Regions from separate parts of the Homo sapiens genome. Here all the other regions are linked to region 2. Evidence: fine-mapped expression QTL. A gene starts in region 2. Each other region holds a variant in brackets. All regions are shown on one strand. Distances are from middle to middle.

Region 1 (7,300 bases), 76 kb before region 2:
GCCGGGCGTGATGCTGGGCTTGTCCTGTGTGCTGGGGTGTGGTGCTCTGTCAGAGGTGCCACCACCCTCCTGCCCCAGTGCTGGCAGCCCCCAGTGCTGTCCTCCTGAGGCGGCAGCAGGCATCTGACTGTGGCCTCATATTCCAGGCAGGTCAGCAGGTCTGTGCAGCAGACACTAAGGGGAGCAAGGCCACCACCTGTACATCCTGTGGTGAGATGTGGGGATGGACCAGAGGACCCTGGCTCTTCCGGACCCCTAGGGAGCACCTGCCACTCCGACTCCATCCCCTCCGGTAGCAGTCAAAAGCCCTGCTGGGGGAGGGGCTTCTTGAGGGGTTTGGTCCCACACCCTCCTCCCTCCTTCCCAGTCCTGAGCTGCCAGGGGGAGCTCTGGACAGGGGGAGACTGTCCAGGTAGCTGCACAGTCTCCCCTTTCACCAGCTCCTCACCAGCGGGATTTGGCTTTCCTGACATCATCTGGAGGACACTGTGCCAGGTTCTGTGTAGAGGGGCAGGCCCTGGAGAAGGGCATTTAGGGAGGCACCTCCAGGCCGTGCCTCTCTGCTCCCAGCTGCCACCAACCTTCCCTGCACTACATGGCACCCCTTCCATTCAAGAGCCCCTCAGGCCCCTGGGCTTCTCTTGTTTTTAACCCCTGAAATCTATGTCTCTCCTGCTTCCGCCTTGCGCCGGGGCTGGCAACTCTTGTGAATCTGACACTCAGCATGAAGATGGCACGCAGGCACCTTCCCAGGGGCAGGGTTCCCTTAGATACTTTGGTTCTCATTGAAGAGGCTGACTCGGAAAATCAATGCAGTCACCACGCCTCATTCAGGACCATATACAACGGGCCCTGACTGTGTTATTTTTATTACCTTAGCCATAAATTGCATTTTCCCCTTATTTTATTATCAAATTTTTCAAAGGAGCTCAGTACCGGTTAAATTGACGGATAATTTGTGCCCTCCCTACTGGGTTACTTTATAATCTAGAAAATGCTCACCTAGTCTGCTTTTCTCAGTTGTTAAATGAGATCAGTGTGCCTACTTTATCTCAGCATCTTGGAAATTATTTCAGAAGGGTGCTTCCAGGGAGGCAGTAGGCAAGATTAAAATATCATTCAGGCCGGGTGGGGTGGCTCACACCTGTAATCCCAGCACTTTGGGAGGCTGAGGCGGGTGGATCACCTGAGGTCAGGAGTTCGAGACCAGCCTTGCCAACATGGTGAAACCCCATCTCTACTAAAAATACAAAAATTAGCTGGGCGTGGTGGCGGGCCCCTGTAATCTCAGCTACTCGGGAGGCCGAGGCAAGATAATCAATTGAACCCAGGAGGCAGAAGTTGCAGTGAGCCAAGATCTTGCCATTGTACTCCAAGCCTGGATGACAAGAGCAAAACTCCATCTCAAAAAAAAAAAAAAAAAATCATTGATTATTCTCTCTACAACAATTCTGCAAGTGGATGAGACCTTATATGCTCTTGGATGTGAAACCATTCATATATGGAAATGGGGTCACTAGATTGTGACAAACACAGAAACAGGGCTCCAGTGACTCCCGGTTGGCTCCTGCCACCCTACCACCATCATGGCTGGCACAGGCCTGGGTGTTCTCCCCAAGAATGGAGGCGACTGGACAGGCGTGCATGTCCAACCAAGCAAGGCTCGCGTGAGCTGGTCTCAGGGTCTGCTCCCAGCTGCGAGCGGAGCCAGCGCGCGTGGAGCACGCGTGATATGGATGCTCCTCATGAACCCTTTTCATAATGGCTGTAGTCTACAACAATCGAGAACTCCAAGCCCTCCCAGTTTCCTCCAGCCTCAGGGGTGGTGGAGACCATCTGTGAGTCAACGCCCTCCTCAGCCTAAGAGATTTCCTGCCTAGTTCCAAGATCATCAGAGGAGGTTGGTTTCAAATGCATGAGCGGTTGCTCTCGGCTTTCAGAATAGAAAGGTGAAATTCTCTCTCCCTGTTCCTTGGGGCCCATTCACTTCCCTGGGTTCCCCTCCTCCCCCGTGGGGTCCATTCACTTCCCCGGGTTCCCCTCCTCCCCCGTGGGGTCCATTCACTTCCCCGGGTTCCCCTCCTCCCCGGGCAGGAAACCAGAAGACGCATGTTCTTACAGCCTCATGGTGAGGGCTGCAACTCCAGTTCCTTTGGGATTTACTCCACACGCTTCCAGATATCATGTTGACACTTGGAATCCCAGAACTGGAAGAGAATCAAGACAGTTTCTTTTATGGATGAGGAAACTGAGGTCAAAGGAGGTCAATATTTATGGAATTAAAATTGGACTGACTTTCAGAATTACTTTTTGCATTGGGAGATACTGATATATTTCTAATAACTTTTTGATGAGTTAGACACTTTTGACTTCCTAGAGTAGTTCTTTATTTTAATAATTTTTAAAGAAACAAACTCTTTTGAATGTTAAAATAAATTCCTGGGCCAGGCGCAGTGGCTCACGCCTGTAATCCCAGCACTTTGGGAGGCCGAGGCAGGAGGATCACCTGAGGTCAGGAGTTCGACACCAGCCTGGCCAACATGGTGAAACCCTATCTCTACTAAAAATACAAAAATGAGCCAGGTGTGGTGGCGCATGCCTGTAATCTCAGCTGCTCGGGAGGCTGAGACGGGAGAATCACTTGAAGGACAGGAGAATCACTTGAAGGTTGCAGTGAACCCACTCCAGCCTGGATGACAGAGTGAGACCCTGTCTCTAAATAAATAAATAAATAAATTCCTGATACTTCATTCAATGTAAGAAGCATTTGCTGGTCTTAGGGTGTGTGATGACTACATGGCATATGCCATCAACTGGACCCGCATCCTGGTGCTGCCTTTGAGCTGAGGCCTGACCCCAGGTGATGATGATACCTTTGAGTCTTCACCTTCCAGGCACTCTAGGAGAACAGGTGCCTCGGGCCTGGATTAATGACTGAGAAGCGCAATACGGAAAAGCTTCCAGGACCCTGACCCCGGGTCAGGCACAAGCAAACCCACCTCCCCCTTCTTTCAGGGAAACAGGGCGAATTGATTGCTGAGTTCCAAGAGTTTCTGAAGCTAAGACTTGCCCAGGAGATAGGACAGTTTTTCTTTCCACACTTTTCTTTCTTTTTTTCTTTCTTCTTTTTTTTGGTGTGTGTTTTTGTTTTTGTTTTTGTTTTTGTTTGAGATGGAGCCTCGCTCTGTCACCCAGGCTGGAATGCAGTGGCGTGATCTCAGCTCACTGCAACCTCCGCCTCCCAGGTTCAAGCAATTCTCTGCTTCAGCTTCCTGAGTAGCTGGGATTACAGGCATACACCACCATGCCCAGCTAATTTTTGTATTTTTAGTAGAGACAGGGTTTCACCATCTTGGCCAGGCTGGTCTTGAACTCTTGACCTCGTGATCCGCCCACCTCGGCCTCCCAAAGTGCTGGGATTATAGGTGTGAGCCACGGCGCCCGGCCGCCACACTTTTCTTAAAGAGATATTTTGTTGCCCGGTTTGACTTCAAGAGGCTGGTGTTGAATACTTTTCCCCTGGATGCCCTCCCCAGTCCCTGCGGCCCTTTGAGAGAGGAGGAGAGGAGTGTCTAATTGCTCACAGTACTTCCTCTCACTTCTTCCCCACCAGCAAGGACGGTCGTGCTGGACTCTATAAGAGCAGTGAATAAATGCTTGTCAGCTGACTGGCGTGGGAGTTTTTAGCACAGGCTTTTTTGCTTCCTTCCAGACTTCATGCGACCTTCTCAGTTCTCTTTGTCTCTCATCACTGCCAGGAGGAAAATTACATTGAAGGGCACTGGGGAGCTGGGGAGCACTTCACATCTCAGAGCTGGGTTTGATCAATAGAGGCATTGCCCAGAAAGGTATTACCGCCGTGCCTCTCTCGGAGGGCGGAAATACATTGCATGCTCCCCGAAGTACTTTAGCGCCCATGGTCTTACACTTGTTGATTTTCCTCCATAAACTAGTTCTGTCTGCCACTCAAGGGAGGAGTTTATGACAACATCATCAGAGTTTGTGGAGAGGCCCAAAGCAAAGAGTACTTAAGCATGTCAGAGTGGACCCTGGAAGTGGCCCCCGGAGAGCCGTAGAATAAGCACTTCCACGGTGGAATGGCTGACACGCAGACCCAATTATGTGTGTGAGCCCCTGGTGCCACCCACACACCTCCAAGGTACCTGCAAAATCA[A/G]TGACTGTGAAAGAGTGCCGGTTATTAAGAAAACTATTTAGGGCAAGGCACAAACATTTGTCGCAGGTATTCCGGGGTGTGTGTCTGTGACTGGGGGCTTTAAAATGATCATCAACAATATCTCCTCTAAGAAGCACTCATGAGGAACAATGTAAATCCGTTTATCTCAAAAGCCAGACTTTAAGATCTGATTTTTTACAAGATCAACTGTTTTCAATATGAAAAATATCTTAATATGTTTTCTCAAGGTAATGGGGAGTAAACTAGGCAATGCTGTCATTTGAGAACAGTATTATGGGCTTACGGCCTCCTCGCAGGCTGCCAGTGTTCCTAACACAGTTTTTCACAATGTGTATTTATTTACATGCTCGTAGAAGATACAGACGTGCATTTCTGCTACTGAGATTGCTGTGTGTTTTATAGGCACCTGCCATATTGAAAACATAGAGTGTGTGGCATATAATTAAAACACAACCTCAGCTTTCCGTGCACGACCCCTCCAGACTTCCTCCCTGGGACTTGCTCTTTGCTGTACTTTAGATAAAATTTAAACCAATTCACTTTTGGCTCATTCTTAGGTAGTAAAAAGCCATCCACTCATATCCAGTCAAAAAATAGGTCTCAGAGCAGTCGTGAAATATGTGGAGTGCTGGGTCATTGAATCACCAAGTTTAACTTCCCTCGTCCCATCGCTTGGGCCTGCTTTGCGTTGGGTCTGTGAGGGCAGGGGAACGGTGGGCTCAGCTTCCTTTGTGTGCCCCCTTGTGCCTCAGTCAGGGGGCTGCTTCTGGTGTCTGCAGGATGGAGGCAGAGGGACAGAGCCCTGGGTTTTTTAATGAGGGTTCCCCAGGGCATGGCTGTGTCCCCATCTGCTTGCCCCTTTCTGTGGCATAGAGGTAGTGACCAGCTAATCCCATCTTGTAGATGAGGAGGCAGAGATGGGGTGGGGACAGGACGACCCTGCAGGATCAGGACAGAGACCCGGTGTCCAGGCTGCTTGATGACCGCTGCACCTTGACAAGAATGGGCTCTGGGAGTAATTCTTAACAGAGTTCCGGAAATCTTAATGCAATCCAGGGACTCTGCTTCTCTTCCTGAGTGACAGTAAAATATTTCCACTGTCCTGAAATCTTTTCTTGACTCAGGCTTGGTTACCTGGTTCAGTGAAAAGCCGATAGTCCCTTCCCCAAGGCCAACCTTGAAATAGACCTGTGCACGCAGCTGTCAGGCCTGAGGGCGTCTCTTGGGGTGGTCATGGCTGTATGGGAGCCCTGTGGTCGGCCTTGGCAGGCCTCTTGTGAAGGAAGAGTGTGCAGTGTAGACTCTGTGTGGACACCCTCGTAAAGTGGCAATGACGGAGGAGGCCGGCGCCCTCAGGGATCCCTGCTCAGCCTATTTGCCAGCAGCCGGCACTAAGGGCAGACCAGCCACCCAGCCCTGGGGAGAGCCTGCCCGGCAGGGCGCTGTGCAGAGTGAAAGAGGTGGACAGGCTGGGCATTCCTCCACCCGCTCACTGGATGGAGGGGAGTCAGGGGTGGAATGCTGTGTTTCTGCCTCATCCGAACTCAGCACCTCCGGGGATGGGGCCTCCGGCTCACGTCTGGGCTGCCTTAGTGTTGCTGCTCCGCACCTGAAATAAATTTGCTGATTGACCCAACTCAAATGAGGGGCTTCCTCCCAAGGGTGCTGGGGAGGGATGCCTTGCAGACCACCTGGCTCTGCAGCCGCAAGCCAGACAGGTGCCAATGCCCACGGAGGACATGACAGCTGGCCCCATGCAGAGCTATGCAAATCTCCTTCCCGGAGCTGCAGAGGGGCCCCAGTTTGCAGTGGGGCAAGGAAGAAAGGCTAGAAGGTGGGGTGTGCCAGTGGGACCCCCAGTCTTGCCTTTCACCCCCTTCAAGCACAGACGTGTAGCTTGAAGGGGCCAGAGGACATCCTTTCTATGTGTGTGTGTGCATATACGCACCTGTGTGTTGTGTGCACACACGTATAAAGTGATTTACGTTAATTCCCCATCCTTCCGTCTACCAGGAAGGAGCATACCCAGGCCTCCCTGACTGCACTGCCCAGTCTTGAGCTCTGGATCAAGCTAAACAAATCTCTGCTTCCCAAGGGTCCTGCCCTGCACACCCATGAGACCTGGCCAGGGCTTTCCTTTGAGAACTTATCTATTGTTTTAGGTTGGTGTGTGGTTAGATGGTTTGGGTCCTTCTTTTTATTCTTGGTATTAAAACAGAGCTCAACCTTGCTTTACTGTTTTTCCCTGAATCTACTTGCAAAATTTTGAGAGTTAGATAGACATTTTTGGAGAAGACAAAAAAGTAACAATCTTTGGGAATTTGCAGAATCCCTTCCTCCCCTGAAACAAGCACCTTTCCAAGTGCTGTGGGTCCGGCCCCCTGGAAAAACCAGGGCCCACCATGGCGGCCAGTAAGCCACGGTCACTGGCGGTGTGGCCTGCACATAGCCCCTCCTGTCCCCTTGGCAGGGCCAGGACCAAGGGCAGCCCATCATGGCCACCAGCTGGCAGAACCTCAGCAAGGCTGGTTCTGTTGTCCTACACTGGCCCTTTGTCCTTCTTGGGAAGGTCCTGTGTCCTATTCATCTGTGACCCACGTGGCCCAGTTCACAAGGCTTGGCCAACAGTGTTTTAGATGGCACCCAGCCTGGGCATAGATGGAGTCCAGGGCGCAGGTTGGCATCACTGGAGGAGGCTCCTGACTGCCCAGCGCACTGGGGGCCCCACAATGCGAGAGAGCAGCCCCAAGACATCCACACACCTGGGCACAGCACTCCCACCCTGGGCCCACTGGGCTGCGAGTGTGAGGGTTGTCACAGCCTCACCCTGGTGATTGTCACCAGATGGACAACAGCCAAGTCTCGGGCCTCCCACTTTTGGGCTTGTTTCCTGCTTGTCCAAGAGGCTGAGTCCAGGGTGGAGTGAACACTGCCTGCACACACAGGCACAGGAGAGGGATGCCGGGAGGTCGGGCTGGGGAGTCCAGAGGTGCATGTGTGTGCCCAGGCCTCTGGCCCCTGCAAACCCATTGTCAGGTGCATCCTCGCTTTGGGATGAGAACTTTGTCACTAGACTTCAACCCAAGGACAGGGCAATGCCACCTT
Region 2 (7,300 bases):
TTTGACCCAGAAATGGCGCCTGCATGTAGAGAAATGCCGGGCCGTGTGGGCACCCAGGTTTAATTATTCAGACTGCTTGGATCCTTGAGAGCTATGCTGAAAGGCTGTTGCTCATAACTCCAGCAGCTGTAAACAAGAACAGCTTTTGCCATAGATTCTTGCTGCTTTCTCATGTTGTGCTTGGAATACAAGATTTCATTTCTGATATGCAATTTCATGATGTTTTTCTTCTGTATCTGTGTTTTAAGATATTTGAACAGTTTGTCAAGACAAGAATAAAAGAAGAATACAAGGAAAAGAAAAGTAAATTGCTGCTAGCCAAAGAAGAATTCAAGAAACTTCTAGAGGAATCTAAAGTGTCTCCCAGGTATGGAGAGAGAAATATACCGGATGATTTCTGGGGCTGGGAACTTACCAATGACAAGAGGACTCTTCAGGTTTGTTTTTGTTAAATCGTGTAACCCAGCCTTCCACAGACACGAAAGTGTGAGCTTTGAAGACCTGCCAGTGAGACCAGCCTGGCTCCCCTCTATCATGCTGCCTGTCATGAGCCTCCAAATGTCCCTCTCATCAGTCCTGGGAAAGTGGGCTATTTGCTAACCAAATGCATCACAACCATTTTATTCCTACCCTGCATGCATTTCAAACGTCAGCAGCCCTGACTGACCCAAATAACCAATCAATACGTGAGCACTCATGAGATGAGGTCTAGTTTCTGATCTAATGATCAAGAAGCAAAAATGCAAAGCTGACTACAAACAACAGCACCATAACCCCTACCACACCCCTTGGTTCCAGATGTCTTAACAGTTGGTCCCAGAGTAAAATGAAGATTTGATACACCGGACAAGTGAACTGAGTTAACTAGGTTGCCAAAACTTACTAAAATAATAAATGAGGCATTATTTCCATGAAATAAGACACACTTACAAGAAAATAGATGTTAGAAATTGGAAGAATACATAAGCTTAACTCTTTCTTAAAAATTAGCTTTAATTGACTGATCTTTAAAAAGTAATGAACATGGGCCGGGCGCGGTGGCTCACGCCTATAATCCCAGCACTTTGGGAGACCAAGGCAGGTGGATCACGAGGTCAGGAGATCGAGACCATCCTGGCTAACACGGTGAAACCCTGTCTCTACTAAAAATACAAAAAATTAGCCGGGCGTGGTGGTGGGTGCCTGTAGTCCCAGCTGCTTGGGAGACTGAGGCAGGAGAATGGCGTAAACCTGGGAGGCGGAGCTTGCAGTGAGCCTTGATTGCACCACTGCACTCCAACCTGGGCGACAGAGTGAGTCTCCGTCTCAAAGAATAAAGAAATAAATAAAAAGTAATGAACATGTACTACTTTTAGAACTATAAAACTGTAAGTTTCGTAAGCATAAAAATGGTTAACAATGTATTTTTATTTTAGACTGGAAGATGCAGCATCAGTTTTTTGTTTGTTTCTTTTTTTTTTTTTTTTTTTTTTGAGACAGACCCTCGCTGTGTCACCCAGGCTGTGGTGCAATGGCACGATCTTGGTTCACTGTAACCTTTGCCTCCGGGGTTCAAGCAATTCTCCCTGCTTCAACCTCTCAAGTAGCTGGGATAACAGGCACCCACTACCATGCACAGCTAATTTTTGTATTTTTAGTAGAGATGGGGTTTCACCATGTTGACCGGGCTGGTCTTGAACTCCTGACCTCAGGTGATCCACCCACCTCGACCTCCCAAAGTACTTGGATTACAGGCGTGAGACACCATGCCCAGCCAGAATCAGTTTTTTCTTTCTTTTTTTTTTTTTTTGAGATGGAGTCGCTCTGTTGCCCAGGCTGGAGTGCAATGATGCAATCTCGGCTCACTGCAAGCTCCGCCTCCTGGGTACATGCCAAGTAGCTGGGACTACAGGTGCCCACCACCACACCCGGCTAATTTTTGTATTTTTAGTAGAGAAGTAGAGACGGGGTTTCACCATGTTAGCCAGGATGGTCTGGATCTCCTGATCTTGTGATCCACCCGCCTTGGCCTCCCAAAGTGCTGGGATTACAGGCATGAGCCACCGCGCCTGGCCTGCATCGGTTTTTAAATGGACATTAATTGATGCTTTCTATGAAGGCATAGGCCCCCTTTGTTTGACCTGTGATTTGGTTGATCAAGAATTAGGTGACCTAAGTTAGTGCTAGTTACACAATCCTCATAAAACTTCTCTAGCTATTCTAAGGACAGGTACTTTCTGAATAGGGAAAAAATAGCATGAATTATCTTCATCACAAGTGCTAATGTAGACAAGGAAATGTGTGTCCTGTTGCCTGCAACTTGTGATTTTCCATTGTTAAAGCAGTCATGAGAATGCTGGGTTCTAGCCATGGCTTAGCTGTGTCCACCCACCAGGTGGCCTTGGGACAGAGGCGGAGGAGGCAAGGGCTCTGGAAAGGTGCTGGAGCCCCTTCTCTGCCTTGGTTCACAGCCTGGCCCTGGCCCATCTTCTCCTGGCCATGGGGTAAGTATTGGACCTTCCTGTGCTCCCGAGCCCTCCTCCAAATGGGAGGATGACCACACACACCTCAGAAAGTGACGAGGAGGATGGCGTGAGGAGTTGCAGGGAGGGACCCCGACGGTGCCTGGCAGGCAGGAGGAGCTCCGAAAGTGGTAGCTGTCATTACTGCTATTGAGACCATCATTACTGTTAAAGACATCTGGCCAGCATTCTCTATTGATAAACTAGCAGCAATAAGCCACATACTCCCCTTCCCATGAATACATCATGAAGACAACGGAAAAAATATTCGGAATGCATTGAGCCATTTAAAAAAGATGACATACACACATACACGCACACAGAAGGAAAACGAGTGGTAGAAATTAGAAGGGAGTTAAACGGACTCTTTTTAAAATGAGAGTTAATTGCCTGCTATTTTTTAAAATAAATTTTATTGTATATATTTAAACTATACAACATAATGTTATAGGGCACATAGAGATAAGATGCTTACTATAATGTAGCAAATTATTTTAAAATTTACACTGGGATATATTGCTTTGATAATTATAAAGCTATTTTTTTCATTTTAAAAGTAGCTAAGTTTTCAACATTTCAAAAACTTTTTCCAGATCTTCTGTATACTTTTCTGTAGGCATCCTAGTGAAACATGTACAATTCAAATGACCACATGCTGGAGAGCCAGGCGCGTCCCCATGCAGGCGACGTGGGCCTCTTAGAAGCAGCCTCCTGAGGCTGTGTAGCCTCCTGCAGCCATACAGTCCCGTCCTGGTCGCCCGTCTCAGCCTCGGTCCTGAGCAGCCTGTGGGAATGGTGGCGACGGGACAGTCCAGAACACTCCTGGACAGCCCCTAGCCCCAGCCCTGCCCGCCTCTCGGGAGAGCAGCTACCGGGGACTGGGTCCTAGCCAGGTGGGGTTGGCCGCCCGGTGGGGTTGACGCCCGGTGGGGTTGGCCGTCCGGTGGGGTTGGCCGCCCGGTGGGGTTGACACCCGGTGGGGTTGGCCGCCCGGTGGGGTTAGCCGCCCAGTGTTCCTTCCTGAGAGCTGCAGCAGCCGCCTCCTTCATGGCAGGCTGGCCCGAGTCCCACTTAGCAGAGGGAGAGCAGAGATCCAGGGCCTGTGAATCAGCTGACCTTCGTGAGTTCACACCACAGCTCATCAGCATCAGCAGAAAGCCGGTTGCTGCCCCTTGGCATGGCTAAGGGGCCACGGAAGCGGGAGGCTCCCTTTCTTTTCAGGGACTCTTCTTTTCAGAGAGGCCCAGAATAGGGCCTGTCTAGCAGCTGCCCCTGTCCAGCCCCTAACTGAGAATGTGTAGATGCCTGTCTAGCCAGGGGAGCGTGGAACAAGCCCAGGCAAGTCTGACCGTTTGACTCATCCCCCGCAGGTCGGGGTGGAGTGTGGCTTAGCCAAGGTACACCAAGGTGGTTACATCAGTAAAGGAAGGAAGGGGGAAGGAGGGAGAGAAGGAAGAAAGGAACCGGGAGAAAAGGAGGGAGGGAGAGAAGGAAGGAGGAAGGGAAGGCAGGGGAGAGGGCAGGAAGGAGGGAGGGAGGAAGAGGGAAGCCAGAGAGAAGCGCTTTTCTTGCGAGAGATGTGTAAACAAGCACCCCCACAGACGGAGAGCAGGAAAACGGCAGCGCCTTGGGGAAGGAATGAGACGAATTGTTCAATGACAGAAATGAGCATGAGTCTGCTAATTATTTGTCTTGTCTTCTAACAGCCATGTCGGCATAATCTTGTTGTTTGTATATTTCAGAAGCTATTAAGTTATAATAATTTAACACAATAATTCCGTGTCTGCAAGGAAGTGTAAAATTCTCTGTAAGGAGAAGTGGGAGGGAATAAGAAGAATCCCCCGGACAAAGAATGTCCACATTTTCCGTGCACCCCAGAGCACACTGCCCAGGCCAGGCCCTGCCCGACTGTCGCTGGACAAGCGAGTGCATCTGCATAGGCCAGCGGCTCCAGGCCTTGGTCCCTCTACCTCTGTCCCTGTCCCTGGCTTCAAGTTCAAGGCTAAGAGAACAGGAAGTTGCGGGGCCCGGTGCCTGCGAAGGTCAGTTGGTCACAGCAGAGGCGCATCCTGTTTTGCCCTCTAAGCTGCCGTAGCCTTGAGAACAGCCTTGCTGCTCTAGGCTGGGTCGCTCGCATTTTCTTACGGGGCACCACCTGGCCTGGCAGCTCTGATTCGCTCCATCAGTGTTTGGGGCTCACTACTTGCCAGGCACTGGGCTGGACATTCAGGGCATTTATTGGAGAACGAAGCAGATAATGTCTCCCTCATTCGAATGTGGGAGTCCAGTTCCGCAAGTGAGGTTTAACAAGATCACCACTGTGAAGAGGGCTGTGATGGAGTCACAGTTCTCTGAGCCTCTAGATAGGGCGAGTTTCCCAAAGAAGACCCCCTGGCCTGGTTTCTCATGACGAGCAGCTCTAACTGGGGGAAGAAACAAGGGAAGGGTGTACCAGGCAGAGGGAACAGTGTAAGAAAGACCGTGGCAGGCAGAGCCTGGTGGCAGCAAGGGAGGGGCGGAGGAGACCTGGCCAGCAAAGCTGTGATCGGGGCGGCTGGGGGAGTGACAGCTGCATGAGACGGCTGAGGAGGCTGGTGGGGGCCGCTCATTTCCGGAGACCACTCAGAGGAGAGACAAGGGGGTCCTGCAAGTGAGGGTGGGTCAGGGCCCTGCAGGACCCGGGTGAGGAGCAGGCACGGCTGGTCAGAGCCGCTCACCCACCGGGTGCCCTGCCACCCACGGCCAGGCCTGGTGGAAGGGCTGGATGCTTGCTCAGGCGGTGCCGCTGCAGGATCTCTGGGGAGGCCAGAGTTGCTCTCTGGAAGGTGTCTCAGGAAACTCTTTCTTTTTCAGGACCACGTTTAAGGAGTTTGCAGAGAAATACGGCCGGGATCAGAGGTTCCGACTTGTTCAAAAAAGAAAGGACCAGGAGCATTTTTTCAACCAATTCATACTTATTCTTAAGAAACGGGACAAGGAAAACAGACTAAGGCTGCGGAAAATGAGATGAGTTTGTGAAAAAATGCAATAAGCCCGGGGGTTGACCCTGGGCGTGCCGGGGGCGAGGGGGTCACGGTGGAGACGGACACGGGCGTGGGGCGGCCGAGACCTGCACGGCCCAGCGGGCACCGGCACTGCGGGGTCTTCGTTCTCAGAGGATTACTGTTTCATATTGAAGCTCTCTCTTTTGTACATTCAGAGTTTGATGCATTTCTAATCACCGTGATACGTCGATCCCTTAATTGTTTTAATTATGCAAATTACTTGTAATATACACAAATTATCAATCCACTGCAGGACTGTGGGGAAGCAGGAACGGGAGCCTCTGTAACAATCTCAAGGCATTTGTGTCATCACCTAAGACGATTGGCGAAAACTTTTCTGAAAACCTTTGTGAATTACTTCGTTTCTCCAGGATTCCCGCAGTGTTGAGGAATTCCTTACTCTGTCCCTAGGTCTCAGTCTCGTTTCTGAGTAGCAGCAATAGGGTTTTCATCATTCATCATAGTGACAACTGTGAGCATTCCACACCTGGACCGTGGATCACTTACAGGTTTCCAAGGGTGGCCGCGCGTTCCTCCCAGAGGGGCGTCCCGGCCTGGAGCAGGGAGCCGTGTTGGTTGCCACCGGTCCTACTTCAAAAGAATTATTTTGTACAAAATCATCATATTAATATTTGAGTTATTTTTATTGTATGCCCGGAGTTTGCATGAGATTTTTTCTCATCACCTTTGTATAAAAAATTTTTAATTTTTTTTAATCAATAAATATTTTAAACCAGTGTGTGTATGTGTGACTAAGACATTCCCCATGATCTTAAGCAGCAACATTGTGTTTCAACTAAAGATACCCAGTTTTGAAAGATTCAGGGAGAAAAAAAATCCCGATGATTGCAATAAGGGCCATGAAAATGCCACTCACACAGAATCTCACTTTTCAACATACTTAGTAGTCCTGGGTGGAACCACGTTTGGCAAAACCTTCACTAATTAATTGCATTCCTTAAACTATTAAACATCCATTCATTTATTTCAAGATTTATGGAGTTCTCTGTTCAGATACAATGTCTTTGTCCCCTAGTAAACAGTGACACAGCCTCCTCACCTACCTTCTTCTTAATTAGTTCCCATGAGAACACTTTTTTCCACACTTATTAGGATGTAATTGGGCAAGGTGGGATCCACTCTCCACTGAGCTCAGCCCTGGTCCCGACACTGTCGCTGTTAACACCTCACCTTCCGTGTTGGGTGGCCCCTGGGGGTTCCAGGGCCGTCGCTCAGCTCAGGCCATTTTTGACACGAGCTGCCCTCCTACCTGGCCATGACCTGTGGAGTTGGAAGGACCTGTGACGGTGCTGTCAGAGCCAGACTCCGGAGGAGCAAGTGCCGATTGTGGATCAGCGAGGGGCTGTCAGGAAAGCGAGACTTCCCTGTGATTTGAACAGGGATCTATTAATGGATCTATCAATGGATGACTACCCCAGGGGATGGGAGTCTGGAGGCTGCTGAGTTCAGATCACTGAATAGCATAGGGATAGCAGGTGACAGCAGCAGCCAGCGCCCCCAGGGCTCCAGAGAGCATCCAAGGAAAAGGCCTCTCCACCAGGGCGGAGGGCTGCAGCCCTTTGAAGAAGGCATAGCTGTGGCTTGGCGCAAGGAGACGTGTAATTGAAATGCTGTGCGATGGGACTTGCTGGAAACCCCACCCTGGGGTGCTGCGGACAGTAAGTGTGTCTCATTAGGAGGACTCTGCCCAGAGCCACCAGGGAGGGATGTCGGGGTGGGGGAAGCTGCAGGCGC
Region 3 (7,300 bases), 220 kb before region 2:
AGAAAGGCTGGAGAGCTGCTTCAGAGGAAGGGATTCCTGAGGGCCGGGGAACATGCATTTCTAAACATAAAGATGCTTATGAAGATACATAGCCAAAGTGGACCTGAACGCCACACGCGAGGCCAGGGGGCTCCTGGCTCCAGGCCTGTAGCTGCCCTGGAAGGAAAACAGTGAGTGCGTGGAGGCCAGGGAGTCCCAGGACTCGGAGGGTACAAACCAGGTAGGCAGAGGCACAGGCCAAACAGGCGAGGGGCTCTCCGCAGCTGCCTTTTTCCTGCCTGACTCCATGTGGGGGTCCCTGTCTCTCAATTATGAACACAGGTACACATTGTTTAAACAAACAGGCCACAAACTACTCATCTGCCTTGGTGAAGGCTTGGGGGGAGCGATGTGCACTAAGCACCTGCTCTGCACCAGCTTCTGGGTGGCTCTTTTCACACGTGTGGTCCTTCGACAGTTGCAGAAAGTCAGCACAGTGGATGCAAATTCACACGACAGGGTGCCCCGACCTGAACCTCCATCTGTCCTCCATGGGGTATTTGCTCTGCTATTGATAAGTGGGTTCTTCTAAGATTTTTAAATAATGTGGGGAAATGCTTATGTTGCGATACTGGGTGAAAAATAAGATTTAAGGTTACATATAGTACAGGCTGCATTAAAGCTATTTATTAGAAAATGCAATTTAATATAAAATGTAATACTGTATTACAAGATGCAATATATTATTCATACTACACACACACACACACACACATACACACGTATACACGTTAGAGAGAGAGAGAAGTGAGGAGAAAAAATGATTGTACAGAGGTCACCGAAAGGTTAGCACTGCTTCTCCCTGAGGGGTTCTGACTCATAATGCTCCGCAGTATTTTCCAGATATGCTACAGTAACACACTGATAACAAAAATAACAGTAATAACAGCCTTTATCAGACAAGCATGCTCCTGGCTGCCCAGGCGGCCTGTGGGCCCAGTGTACCTCGCTCTGTCTTTCGCTGGGAGCCTCACTTCCCGTCACTTGATTCCATGAGTGGCCTCTCCTCTTCCCACTCTGTGCTTGCCTTGGGCGATCCCACCCACATCTTTGATCACAATCACTACGGACAGCTGCCACTCTCGATTTTTGTGTTAATTTCAGTTCTGTGGCTCCATCCAAGACCTTGCTCCTGAACTCCTGGCTGAAGTTTTCAATTGTGAAGAGGATAAGTCTTTCCAGGTGACCTTGGAGCCCTCCAGGTCAGCACGTCTTCGCCAACCTCTTGGCCCATGGTGCATCCCAGAGGGCTCCTCATCTCTGAGCACAGACTTTCCAGGCTCTCCCCAGTCTCACAGAACAGGGGGAGCCACTCTCACACCCTCCTGCTCCTCACCCTGCACTGAGTCAGGTGTCACACTGCTGATTCCTTCTCTGGGTCCTCGCTGGCACGGCTTTCATTCAGGGCCTCATCATCGCGCAGCTGGCGAGTGTTCAGAAAGGAGTTGGTCTGATTGGCAATTGCTTTGGAAAGAAGTTCTGGCAGCGTGGGCGGTGGGTGGTGCAGGGAACCTCCGAGGTGATATGCAGGGCCTAGACCTCCCTCCTGTTTCCCTGCTGTTTACTTTAACTCTGCAGGGCTGGAAGGAAATGTTTTCATCTCTCCCATTTTGGGATTCTATTAGGTTTTACTTAGAAAAACAAAATAAAATAACTTCCAAAAAGAAAAAAATATTCTATGGGCTTCAAAATCTTATTCCACTGATGTCTCTGAAACCTTCCCCATGATTTTTTCCTGAAAGGTAATAAACAATCGGGAACTCATTAGCACATGTAGGTAATTCACACGTTTTCCCTGCTGCGGATCTCCTCTTCCTAGGTGATATCCTGTCTCAGCTTAGCAGGAAATTTCTGCTGGTTTTGCCCAAATAACATGGAAAGACTTAAGGTTGTTTTTATTGGATAGGAGAGCTGGAGACTAGACTGTACCTAAGATGCTTTATAAAGCAAATTTCTCACTGATTTTTACAGGGAAACAAAGGGCGAGTTTATGGGGTGCCTGCCACCTGTCTGCCCAGGGCTGACCTCTGGGGGCACTCACAGGGAGGGAGATGTGCCTGCCAGCACACATCTCTCTGGCAGAGAGTCCCAGCTCAAAGCTAGACATTCACCTGGCTTCTGGTCCCCAGGAAGAAGGTGGCATCCTGCTTGTTTGTGTGACAGCTGTCTTCTTTGCATCTTCTTTGCCTTCGCTCTTTCAACCATCCTCAAGATGTACAAATGACATTTGCAGAACCGGTTCATGGAGGCGGTCCTTCTAAACAATCATTGAAATGAGTGTATCTATGAGGGGGCTTCTCCTATCCATGAGGGTGTAGAAGGTTCCCGGGTTAAACGGGATGAGAGGCAAACCTTGAAAAGAATCTGACAGAAATGAGAGCCAGGAGGAGGGGGAGAAGCCCTGTGCTGGGTCCTTGGCCCTAGCAACGATTAGTGGAAATGGCCGTGCCTGCGTCGTTGAGGGCTGTTTTCCCATAATTTAGCACACAGAATGGTACAGAAAAGGGCTCCCAAGCATTGTCATACAAAAGGAGAGTCAAGCTTGTGGCAGGAAATAGCAAGAGTTTAGGCCGCTTTGTGGTTGAGTCAAGAGCTGCTTTCGACTTTCCAGCTCTTCTTCAGAGCCAAGTAGTGGCTCAAGGGGTCCTGAGCTCAGAGCATCAGGAAGCCCGGAGGGGTGCTGGCAAAAACGGACTTCAGCAGAACCCTTTCTAGGACAGTGGGGATGGGGCTGGGATTCCCCAAAGGAGTGCTACAGCTCCCACAGACTGTGGCCAACCCTACCTTCCCAGGAACCTGGGGGCCACACACGCAAAACCCTGCTTTTGCAGAGAACAGCATGCAAGCCAGGCACGAGCACCCCTGGCCTTCTGTCTCTGCCTCCAAGCAGAAGGAAGGAGAATCTCCTGTGCAAAAGGGACTATGCGGTGGGGGAGGTGGGGGGTGGCAGGGGCATGTGAGCCTGCCTGGAGACGCCTCCCCAATATCCTGATCTGGCTCTGACCATTAAACTAACACATTTATAACACATGTGCACATACTAATATATGCACATAAATTAAGGGTGTAAGTGAATAGTAACAGCCTTCTAATGTGCAGAGCTTTCTGATTTTAGGTGAATAAAAAAAATGCCAGTACTTTTGCATCAAAGAGAGAGATAAACTTGCTAATTGAAAACTGGTTTTCGTGGAGGAAAATATGGAGGCGCCAGCTATGTAAATCAGCATATGCCCAGATCTAAAAGAAATCAGGCCAGGCCAAGAGGAAATTAAGCAAATCAGGATAATGAGGAAACAACCCTAGACGCAAATTAAAAGCACTCGGGTGCTTTAGGCCATCTCAGGAGGTTGGCAGTGGACAGGTGGGAGGTGATGCGAACACGGGTTTGGAGTACCAGGCGTGTCAGTGCCGCTGGGTGGGTGGGTGCCTGCTCTCCCACCCAGGTCAGGGAGGGTTTTTCATGCAAGTTCTTAAATGCATGGATCATAATGCTGCCTTTTGCATCCAGAAAGACCCTTCAAATGCCTCTAACAACACTGGTCTCGCGCTGGCATTAGCTGTGCTTGGGTTTCCTGGGTTTAGCGACCTAAGGGGTTTACAGCGCACGGAAGTCTCTGCCCAGCTGTCAGCGCGCGTCGCCAGGGGCTGCACTGAAGCTGTGGACCCGGGATGGGGAGGAGGCTGGCGGCCTCCGAAGCAGGGTCTACAGCGGGGGAGGGCTAGCGCCGTCTGGCGGTGGCTGCGCGTGGCCAGTGCGGACCCAGGCTCGGCTCGGCCGGCGCTGCCTGCGTGTGGTCCGGGCGGAGCGAGGGTCCTTGGAGCCCGGTTCGTCCTGGGTCCCAGGAAGCTCGGCGTGCAGCGTCAGAGGCCGCGTGTGCTGGGGGAGGGAGGAGTACAGACTGTGCCTGGGGGCATCCAGGACGAATTCACAGAGGGGTGGTCCTGCCCCACCCAGGGGGTGTCGTGGGCAAAGGCCCTGGGGCCACCTGCCTGGTGCCTTGGAGGGCGTAGGGCAGGAGCCGCCGAGGCCCGCGGGCCACTGTGGGGCGCGGAACTTCAGACCAGGCACCCGCGGCTCAACTTCCGGGCCAGGGGACCCGCGGGGGCCTTACGAACCTGTTTGGCCC[A/G]TTTGTGCAACAGAAATCCGCCCGCGCCTAGCAGCGTCCGGGGCCGCCTGCGCCGGATCCGCAGCCCAGTACCCTCCGCGCCCTGGACTCCGAGGAGGCCAGGTAGAGAGCGGCTCGCGCGGTCCCCGTCTGCGCCCTCAGCCCCGCGCTGGGCAGCGGGACATGCCTGGCTCCGGCGCCGCCACCTCGGCTTCCGCTTGCCCTTGAGTGCGGAGCCCGGAGCCTCCCTCGCGGTGCGCTGGGTCCCAGAGGGCCAGAGGCCACCAGGGGGCCGGCATCGGCGGGAGCCCAGCCGGGCGCGCCCTCGGCCCTCTCCCACCCACGTCCTCCGCGGCCGCCCGGGTCCAGGGGCGCAGCGGGGAGGAGACCCCGGCCAGGGCCGGGGAGCGCGAGGGCGGGGCGGGGTCCGGCGGGGAGGGGCGCGGGCGGGCGGGGACCGGGGCGGGGGCCGGGTCCGGGGGCGGCGGCGGCGCGGGCGGGAGGAGGAGGAGCTTCCCGCGCGGGGCAGGGGCGGAGCGAGCGGCCGCGCCGCGGAGCCAAGTGAGTTCGCTCCGGAGCCGCGCCGCCGCCGGCCCAGCATCTCGGGCGCCCGCCGCCCCCGCCGCCGCCGTCAGCGCGGGGATGTAGGATGCAGGCGGGCGCCAGGTTCCAGCGGCGGCGGCGGCAGCTGCAGCAGCAGCAGCCCCGGCGGCGGCAGCCTCTCCTCTGGCCGATGGACGCAGAGCCGCCGCCGCCGCCGCCCTGGGTCTGGATGGTGCCGGGCTCGGCCGGGCTGCTCCGGCTCAGCGCGGGGGTCGTGGTTCCCCCGGTGCTGCTCGCCTCGGCCCCGCCGCCCGCGGCCCCGCTGCTCCCCGGTCTCCCCGGCTGGCCGGCCCCGAGCGAGCCGGTGCTCCCGCTGCTGCCGCTGCCCTCTGCGCCAGACTCCGCCGCCGCCGCCGCCGCGCACCCCTTCCCCGCGCTCCACGGGCAGGTAACGTGTCCCCGTCCCGCCTCGGCCCGGGTCGCCGTCTCCCCTGCTCCTGGGCGCGCCCTGCCCGGCCCGGCTCTGGCCTCCGGCTCGCGCGCCCTCCTCCCCGGCGGTCCTCGCCGCCCCAAACCCTCAGGACGGAGCCCGGCAGCCGTGCCTCGGCGAGAAAGTTCGTGCTTGGACGCCCGGTCGTCCACCTCCGCAGCTTTGGCAGGTGCCTCCGGGTGTCTGGACGGAGCCGTGGAGGGACCCGCCGCCCAGGCCCGCGTGGGGACCGCAGGGAACTCGCGCCACGCCGGGGGTCACTGTCCATCGCGAGGTGCTGAAGTGGCTCCGTGACCGCCGCGGGCCGTGGCTGACATCGCGGAGAAGTTAGGACTTTCACAGTCTCTGCCAGACTTGAAAGCAAGCTGGAAATCGATAGCTGTTTCAGCTGTTTCAGATTCTAATCTGGTTTGGGTTTTTCCCCCTTTCATTTGAAAATAGACTCAGGGCAATGCTTAAGAGAATTCCAACCGACGGAAGTGGCCGGGAAATCCTGCCTTCGGTACTGAGGGATGTTACCGGAGATTCCCCTGCCCCAGGCCTGCCGGAGTCCACCACATTCGCTAATGCCACACTGCACTTTAGAACTAGAGTTTGGCTTTTAAGACATGGGATTAAAAAGAAAAAGTGACTGAACCTTTGATAAATGGTGCAGCAGAGCTAGGCGGGCTGGTTTGGGCAAGATTCATTGTCAGCTAACTATGCAGATGCATTTAAATCAGGGAATAGCGTGCATTTTATTCCAAGGATTGACCTCATTAGCATATTCAAACGGGTGTTATGTTAGAATACACCATTTGATTAATTTAATTCCAATATTATCTTGTGAGCTTTTCTAAAAGATGTTGTTAAACTCCTGCTAAATTGGTCTTTAGACTTAATGATACATCACATATGCAGCACTGGATATTGTATTTTTATGTGTGATGCAGTTTATTTTGGATTTTATTCAAGAAACGTTGGTAGTTTTTGCCGTATTTTGGAGGGGTGTTATATCAGAGTGCTGCCACTAGAGGTATATAATGTCAAGGAACTACATTTTTTAAATTCTGCTTTAAAAAACTGCATTTTTTCACTTATATAAATTTAAAAGAAAATTTAAAAAACCTTAGCATTAATCTTTTAAATATTTTTGTGCTACCCAGCTTCTGTAAAGTAAGAATATGTACAACCAGAAGAACATTTTCATGTAACAGGAACATCACAAATGCTTTTACGATTTTAAAACAATAGGTACTGAAACGTTCCATGTCATTGAGCAATGCATTTTATTAGTGCCTTATGAGGTCTCAGTTATTTTAATTAGAGAGACGGTGCCCTGAATTACCAGCCCCTTTCCATGACTGATGTTTTATTCTGTGTATTGAGATCTTCAACTTAGAAGATGCTTAGTTTTTTTTTTTTTTTTTTTTTTTTTGCCATAGAATCTATTTGTATTGGTGAACCTTGTATTGGTGAAACTTGGAATCTTAACTTCCTAGATATTTTCATTTTGAAAGTATTAGTTATTTGTAAAACGACAAAAGTAATTAATACAAAATGCAATGCTGAAAGGAATATTATAAAATATAGCCCTAAGCCTGCCTATAAAAATAATTTAAGAATTAGAAAAGGAATACCCAGCATTTCTCTTCTTCATGGTGATTTCTCATTATCTCAGAGCAGAAACCCATTTCTTACTGCGTGCTTGTGGTTTTGTGCTTAGAAGTTCTTTTTCAGTATTGAAGAATGCAATGTTGGTAATGCTTTGTGATGATTCAGATATGAAAACTTCTATAATTTTTTCTTTGATTGGTACATACTTATAGTTTTTCTCGAGGAAATTTATCTGATAATCAAATACATACATTTTGAAATTCCCTTTTCAAAGCAGTTATTCCAGCATGTTTTGGCATGAAGTCGAGTGGATGGATTCAGGCTAATGCAGCTGTCTTTTCTTGCTTGGCTTGCAGTGGCTGTTTGGTGGCCATTCTCCGTCCCTAGGACTGCCCCCCTCTTCCACAGTGGAGCTGGTGCCCGTCTTCCCACATCTCTGCCCTTCTGCTCTTGCAACCCCTATTGGGAAAAGTTGGATAGACAAAAGGATTCCTAACTGTAAGGTAAAAACGCAAGTGATTTAATT
Region 4 (7,300 bases), 110 kb before region 2:
CCGATTGGCAGTTCATTCGTTGTCCATGACATCCTTCAAATCCGCCTGTACTTCTTATTCCAGAGCCACCAGCCAGTTCTCCCGCCTGGGAATCCTGAGGGCTTCGTGTCTGCAGCATCCATTTTCCTGCCCTTTCAGAGTCTTCCAGACAAAGGAGCTACAGAGCTATAGTAAGACCTCTGTGGTCATATGGCAAACCATCTGCCCGTGGACCCCTGCTCATATGGCAAGCTGTCTGCCCACAGACCCCACAGAGACCTGGCACAGGAGCCAGGTGGAGGGCAGTCACCACCTCGGCCCTCTGTCGTAGCTTCCCAACTCTGGGTCCATCCCAGGGGCTCCCACAGCCTCCCGTCTCCTGCACCCTTTGCATAAAACATCTTTTGGATAAAACAACCTTTGCAGCCTCTTAGGAAGGATGAGGTCCGCCGTGCTGAGCCTCCAAGACCAGGTGACCTCAGCAAGGTGGCTGCGGACATGCTGCCTTTCCAGGAAGTGGCAGTCAGAGATGCCAGGGTGGCCCCATGACCCCAGGCCAGGATGTGCCCTGCCAAGGGAAGGCCATGGAAGGCGGCGTTTACCTCCACGTCCCCAGGGCTGCACTGGAGCTACTTAAGAGAAGCATTTTTAAATAAAAGTTCAGCCTGTTACAAAATTCCCTAATGTGAGATACAGGCTGGAATGAGGCAATTCCACAGAGAAATCATTGTGGGAATAATTCACATCTAATGTAGTTTCATGAAGGATGCTATTTCCAGAGTCTAACTTTTTCTCCCTTTTTCTCTCACTTTTTGATTTTATTGCTGTTTTTTTTTTTTTTTACATTAGGAGAAATTGAAAACCTGTTTAGGTTTCATAGCTTCACATTTCTGAAGCAAGTGACACAGCAGAGAGTTGGGATGCATCTGATTTGTGCCTCACAATGAGGCGTGCACGTCACTGGTTAATTATGTGGCGTTCCATAAAGGAGAGCTGTTGGGATAAAAGGATGAATTGCGAGCATTAACCTTCTTTTTCCCTTTTTAAGGGGACCACTTGTCAGTCACAACGGCAGTAAAGCCAGGTGTAATGAAATTGGATTTTGGGAGAGGCTGCCATTGAGTTGATGCCATGGGCCGCTTGGTCTGGGAGAGGCTGGATTCTCAGTGCAGCCCCAGAAAGAGCCGGGTGGCAGGGGTTGAGGGCATGACAGGTCCAGGGACAGGGGCCTTAGACCAGATCCAGCTGCAGAGCACGTGAGCCCTGACCCCATGGTCAAGACCCTGGACTTCAAGCAGAAAGGCCACTGGGCTTGTGGTCAGAGATGGTGTGAACCTCCATCAAGGATCCCTTCCTCTGCCTGTTCATAAAACCGAGAGGTGGGCTCTTCTCTCCAGCCAACCTGTTCTGCCTGGGGCCAGGCTGTGAAGGGGCTGAGGGACAAGTCCACTGCCATCGGGGCCTCTCCCTGAAGGGAGTCTTCTGCCCCAAGAAACATTCTTCCCTTACCCGCAGGCTCATTGGTTTATTTTAGCCTCTAGTGGAAGGACACTGGACAGATGTCCTTTGATTTGAGGACACACACCTTTGGATCTGAGCTGGCTCCGTGCCCCACTGGAGCCCACACAGTGACTGTGGCCACCGCTGCTGGGAAGCCAGGACCCACCATCACGGACAGTTTCTCCACTGTACATGGGAAATGGCTTTGACAGGTGCTTTCTGGCATTTGGGGTGGATGGACTCATCCTCATCCCCATTTTCAAGCTGTGCATATGGAGGCCATGTAGATGCGGGGGCAGGGTGGGGGGGCAGGTGCCAGTTTCCTGAGCCTGCTTGTGGTGGGGCCATCGGGCCAGCCCACTTGCTGGTTTGTGACCTGTCTCAGTCTGTTCCCGCTCCTCTATACTCTTAGACTAGACAATTTATAGAGATGAGAAATGCTTTTCTTACAGGTCTGGAGAATGGAAAGTCCAGGACCAAGGCATCAGCAGATCTGGTGCCTGATGAGAGCTGCCAAGACCCTAGCTAGGCCCAGGCCCAGTGCTAAGCCACCAGGCTTCCAAGATGGCGCCTCCTTGCTGTGTCCTCCCATGGCAGGAGGGAGCAAGGGCTAAGAGGGCCTAGCTGGTTCCCTTCGGGCCTTCCATGAGGTCGCTCATTCCATCCATGAGGGCTCTGCTCTCATCACTTCACATCTCCTAAAGGTTTCACCTCTTCATATCGTCCTATTGGGGCTTAGCTTCCTACTTTGGGGTTTTGTGGGGACTCACGTATTCATGCCCTAGTGTGACCTAATGTGACATCACGCCTCTCCCCTCCCAGCTGGGTTGCGGTGGAGACAGCCAGCTGTCCCCTTAAGATGCCCACCCCCCACTTGGAGGAGGTCTGAAGTGGAAAGTGGCTAGGGAGGCTGCCATCACATTTCCCAGGCTGCCCCCAGGGCTAGCGCTCGCCGGCGGGATGTGAGCAGAAGCAGCAGTTAGGAGAGTGCCTTCCCCACCTCCCGGCCCCTACTGGCCTCTGGATTCCAACCTCTCTGAAACTCGGTATGGCAGGGCCACAAACCAGAAGCAGATGTGTCCCTGAATCGTTTGCGGTGACCCACATTCATCCTCATGGGAGAGACGCACCATCTTCGAATGTGAACGGTTGACATGACGGGGGCGTTTTCCCATGAGGCTGAGAAGTCCTGTGCATGCATTCCCTTAAAATAGAGACGTGAGCACCTGTGATTGGGGCCAGCTTGGATGTTCTACCAGAGGCAGTTTGCTGTCTGGTCAAAGAGGTCTTAGGGTGCTTTTTTGTCATCAGCCTCATTAAACAGTGAGCTGATCTTAAGTGACGAGACCATGAAGGTCACCACTGTGACATACTGGAAGTCTTTTTTTTTTTGAGACGGAGTCTCACTCTGTCACCCATGCGAGAGTGCAGTGGGACGTACTGGAAGTCTTAAGTGAGGTCATCTACCACCCAGCTGTGCTCTGTAACCCAGAGAGCGCAGCTCGGAGGGCTGAAGACAGGTATACGCATATCCATGAACACTGTCACTACTCCTGAGAAGGCGTCACTGCTGTCATTGAAAAGCTTTGAGGGCTGTTGTCTATGGTTCTTGAATTTGTAAGTGGAATTCCTGGCAGCTGTGTGATAAATCAAGCACAT[C/G]GGTGTCGGCGTGACCTTTGACTTCTGTCCCCACAATCTGTGAACCAGAATAAACCTCTTCACTCAAACTTCCACTTAGGATGGCACCTGGTTAATATGAATCATGAAGCAATCAAAACTGAGGTGTACGTTTCCACAGACGGCAGACTTAATTATTTAAGTGTTTCTTTTTTCTAAATAAACTGTAAAAAATGAACATATTTTATTTTAAAAATGGAAACAATTTAGAAGCTTATAGAATCAAGCTCCTCCCAACCCTATTCTTCTCATATTGGAAACTTCTATTGATAATCAGATAATCAGAATATTTCCAGTGTATTCCATGCAAGCCTATGGATTCCTGAAAATGTGGAGAGGATGTTATTGACTTGAATTCCGCTACGTTACTGTTTTACTTAGCAGTGTACCTTAAAGACCAAAATGTAGTGAACTTGAAAAAATCTGTTTTTTATTTTTATTTTTTTTTGGAGATGGAGTCTTGCTCTGTCACCCAGGCTGGAGTGCAGTGGCATGATCTTGTCTTACTGCAACCTCCGCCTCCCAGGTTCAAGGGATTCTCCTGCCTCAGTCTCCCTGTATCTGGGATTACAGGCACTCGCCACCACGCCTGGCTCATTTTTGTATTTTTAGTGGTAATGGGGTTTCACCATGTTGCGCAGACTGGTCTCGGACTCCTGACCTCAGGTGATCCGCCCTCCTCGGCCTCCCAAAGTGTTGGGATTACAGGCATGAACCACCGCGCCCGGCGAAAAAGTTCCGGCCTTACCAGCTTTTGTGGTACCCCACGGTGCAGACATGCGCATACCTACTTGCTTTGGGGGCATCAGTCTGTTTCTAACGTGGGCTGTTACAATCAGTTGAGCGTGTACGTTCTCTGTGCTCCTTCATGTGGTCGGGAGGCTCACGTGCAGCTGGTGATCATGCAGTTTGGTACAACGCTTCTGGAAAGAAATGGATTAATATAAATCGAGACTCTTAATTAGTTTGTCTGTTTAACCCAGCAGTTCTGTCCATGGGACCTTTCCTAAGGAGCAGTCATCGGAAACGCATTACAGGATCTGGAGAGAACCAGCCCCCGTGACCCCCACGTGGCCCTGGGACTTGTTAGAGCTTTCTAGCATCTTTCATTGGCTCTTTCCTCGTCTCTGAGGAAGGTCGATGGATGCGCCTTCAGCACAGCGTGGTGGTGGACGTGGGGTAAAAGAGCAGCCATGTTTAGCAAAGCCGGCAGCTCTGAAAAACTCACTCACAGCTGAGCATTTAGAAGGTCATTACAGTCCCGCAGAGAAGGACGCATGAGGACATCCCACAGAATGCAGTGTAAAATTCGGAGATTAAATATAAAAAAGAAGTCCAAATGCCCAACAGCAGCAGCAGAGCAAATTGCAGTCCATGTTTTGTAGAAATATTTGGCAGCCATTGATTTATTTTATTTTTATATATTTTTTTATTTGCAGCCATTTAAATCATGCTTATTAAGAGCTTCTAAGATTGTGGCGTTTGTTAAAATAGTAAGTAAAGCAACAATTCTACATTGGCAGTGACGGGTCCATAATGAATGAATGAAACTGAAGTACTGGGACCCTCCTTTTTGGCGCCTTACGAGACCCCGGGGAACTCTTGGCGCTGTGCTCCCACGATCACGTGTCTGTGTAAAATCTGCGGATGTTCGATGGCCTCAGGAAGGCTGCTGTCTGTTCCCAGCGTGACCCTCTCTGTCGCTGTCCCTGCCTTGTGGGTGGTGGTGGAGTGTTTGTAGGTGTGGCAGGACCCAGCTGGGGGAAGGGAGGTGCTTCATTTAGTTTGAGTTTAGTGGGATGTGTTTTGGGGGCTCACTTTCCAGGGAGGCAAAGCCAGCTATGCGGGTGGTGGGCCTGACTCTCAGGAATTCTTTCACCTCTTGTGATGGTTCCAATGTGTCCCCTCCACGTTTCATGTGTTGAAACTTAGTTGCCAGTGTGATGGTGTCAAGAGGCACGGCCTTTAACAGGTCATGAGACCACAAAAGCTGCCCTCCACGTCCAAGATGGCGCCGTGATTCTGTATCCGCCCGAGGGGAGGGAGGCTGTGTCCTCACAGCACTGGCAGGAGGGGGAAAGGCAAGTGGGAGATAACCGTGCGAGAAGCCTCTTTTATAAGGGCCTCCATCCCCTTTGCCAGGGAGGATCCCTTGTGATCTAAGCGACTCCTAAAGGCCCCACCTCTTAATGTGTTCACATGACCATTAAGTTTTAACTTCTAAATTTTAGAGGGGACATATTCAATTATATTATTCTACTCTGACCCTCAAAACTTGAGTCCTTCCCACACGCAAAATACATTCATTCCATTTCAGTAATTCCAAACGTTTTAACTTGTTCTAGCATCAACTCAAAAGCGCAGAGTCTTTTAAACATCATATGAGTGAGACCCAAAGTGTGATTTATTCCGAGGAAAATTTCCCTCCAGCTGTGAGCCTGCGAAATCAAGCAAGTCATCCGATTCCAAAATACAATGGTGGAACACACATAGGATAAACATCCTGATTCCAAAAAGGAGACATAGGCAAGAAGGAAAGAGTAGCTGATCCAAAGTAATTTCAATACCCAACAATGCAAATGGCATTACATCTCGAGGTTTGAGAATCACCTTCTTTGACTCCATGTTCCAGACACAGGAGCAGGGGTTGGGCCCTCCACACTCCTTGGGGTGGAGTGGCCAGGAACTTGCATCAGACAACAGAGCTGCCAGTGCCTTGGCCTTGGACTTCTGTCCTCTGTTCTTCATAAAATACCCAGCCTCAGCTCGTTTGTCTAGCAGCACAAACGAGACTAAGGCAGAAACTGGTGCTGAGAAGTGGGCTATTGCCATAAAATATACCCAACATGTGAATGCAGCTTTAGAACCAGGAATGGGGCAGAGGCTGGAATCGTTTCAGAGTGAATGCTGGGAAAAGCCTGCATTGCCATGAACAGAGCATTAAGGACGATCCTGGTGAGAGCTCAGAGGAGGGGAGAGCTGTCGGGAAAAGTAGTGATATAGATGGGAAGGGCCATTCAGAGGAGGCTTCAGATGGAAAGGAGGAATGTTGACCTAAAGGGAGAAGCTGAGACACAGCAGGTAATTTTACAGCCTTTGCTAGAGCCAGAGTGAGGGCAGCCGCCGGGACACACTTCTAGGTTGCATAGGGGAGTGCTCCGAGTAGGTGTTTAAAGGCGAAAGAGAACGAGGGGTGGCTGCTACAAAGCTGTCGGGTGGGATTTCCCACTGTTTACAGGAGGGGCACTGTTTAGTGATTGGCTGTGCACTGCTGAACACAGGGTGTGATGATGGTGCCTGGTATGTGGCCCTTTATGACTGCTTGTTGTCAGTTGAGACCCCACAGAGCAGGTGGCTTCAAGAAGTAATTATTTAGCTCAAGGGGGTGTGACGTGACTGCTGTCATAGTTTTAATGCCCATTTAACAGGCCTGTTACTTTAAAGGGGCTTGCATTCCTCAGATAAAAAGTTTATTTTCTTTCTCAGCAACAAGGTATTGGAAACTGAGGGAAGGGTACCCTTGTTATAATGTGGCCAAGAACTGGGTGAGCTGTGTCTGTGTCCTGGGACTTGGTGAAGGCAGAGCTTTGCGAGCAGTGAACTAGGACATTTGTCAGGAATCTCTAAGCAGCAAGGGGTTCAGGATGCTTCTTTTGACCTTATAGTAAAATGTGAAAAGAGGGAAACAAGTTAAAAATGGAATTTACAATCAAAAGAGAAGCAGAGCTTAAAGTTGGAACATCCTCTGTCTGGCCAGGTACAGAATGAGAAGGGGGTTGGGGAGAGAGCACCAAGGGTAGCCAAGGCACCCTTTGATCAAAGGGTGAGTACAGATAGGCCACGGCCAGATGCTGTTCACCAGACAACGGGAGCAGGAGCCTGCAGGCATTTCAGAGAGCCTGGGGCTGCCAAGTCCTTCACAGGCCCAGAGAGCCAGGCCCTTGAGGGTGGAAGGGCTCAGGGAGGGGCCCAGGGTGCCCATGAGATCTTGGGGCTCACTGCGCAGGGCTGCCTCAAGTTTCCATTCCCCTCATTCTGACCCAGCACTCATCAGCCGCCCCAGCTGTGGCTCAAGTGGGCCAGGTGAGAGGCTGGACCTGCTGCCCCAGAAGGTACCAGCTGTGACCTTGGTGTTGTCCACGTG

Alleles and levels. Alleles are on the strand shown, and positions count from the first base shown. SD is a standard deviation of normalised expression in the study named. Not every link is listed here.
For the expression in thyroid of the gene that starts at base 3,455 in region 2, G is the high allele of the variant in region 1 and A is the other (moderate effect, 0.58 SD a copy in GTEx).
In carriers of allele G in region 3, the expression in sun-exposed skin of the gene that starts at base 3,455 in region 2 tends to be higher than with A alone (small effect, 0.38 SD a copy in GTEx).

Evidence for each region. PIP is the estimated chance that this variant, and not a neighbour inherited with it, causes the effect.
Region 1: its variant is fine-mapped to the expression of TCERG1L-AS1 in thyroid (GTEx, PIP above 0.99).
Region 3: its variant is fine-mapped to the expression of TCERG1L-AS1 in sun-exposed skin (GTEx, PIP 0.96).
Region 4: its variant is fine-mapped to the expression of TCERG1L-AS1 in thyroid (GTEx, PIP 0.98).

The regions. Positions count from the first base shown.
Region 1 is chr10:131,167,013-131,174,312 of GRCh38, reverse strand. All of the region lies in intron 4 of TCERG1L (transcription elongation regulator 1 like), which reads left to right. Among named protein-coding and RNA genes, the nearest start is that of TCERG1L-AS1, 75 kb to the right of the region's middle. RefSeq lists an enhancer at 6,507-7,007. The variant A/G (reference allele first, on the strand shown) is at 4,175.
Region 2 is chr10:131,091,373-131,098,672 of GRCh38, reverse strand. TCERG1L-AS1 (TCERG1L antisense RNA 1) reads right to left here and starts at 3,455. Exons shown (of 2, transcript NR_120623.1): 1 at 3,374-3,455; 2 at 2,896-3,285. TCERG1L (transcription elongation regulator 1 like) reads left to right here. Exons shown (of 12, transcript NM_174937.4): 11 at 249-367; 12 at 5,355-6,282. The coding sequence ends at 5,511. RefSeq lists an enhancer at 1-187.
Region 3 is chr10:131,309,130-131,316,429 of GRCh38, reverse strand. It overlaps TCERG1L (transcription elongation regulator 1 like), which reads left to right and starts at 4,709. Exons shown (of 12, transcript NM_174937.4): 1 at 4,709-5,136; 2 at 7,131-7,277. The coding sequence starts at 4,795. LOC101927461 (a long non-coding RNA gene) reads right to left here and starts at 4,574. Exons shown (of 3, transcript XR_242763.6): 1 at 4,156-4,574; 2 at 2,151-2,296; 3 at 652-1,774. The variant A/G (reference allele first, on the strand shown) is at 4,167.
Region 4 is chr10:131,198,886-131,206,185 of GRCh38, reverse strand. All of the region lies in intron 4 of TCERG1L (transcription elongation regulator 1 like), which reads left to right. LOC105378563 (a long non-coding RNA gene) reads left to right here. Exons shown (of 5, transcript XR_946484.1): 4 at 64-1,667; 5 at 1,932-3,633. Among named protein-coding and RNA genes, the nearest start is that of TCERG1L-AS1, 110 kb to the right of the region's middle. The variant C/G (reference allele first, on the strand shown) is at 3,139.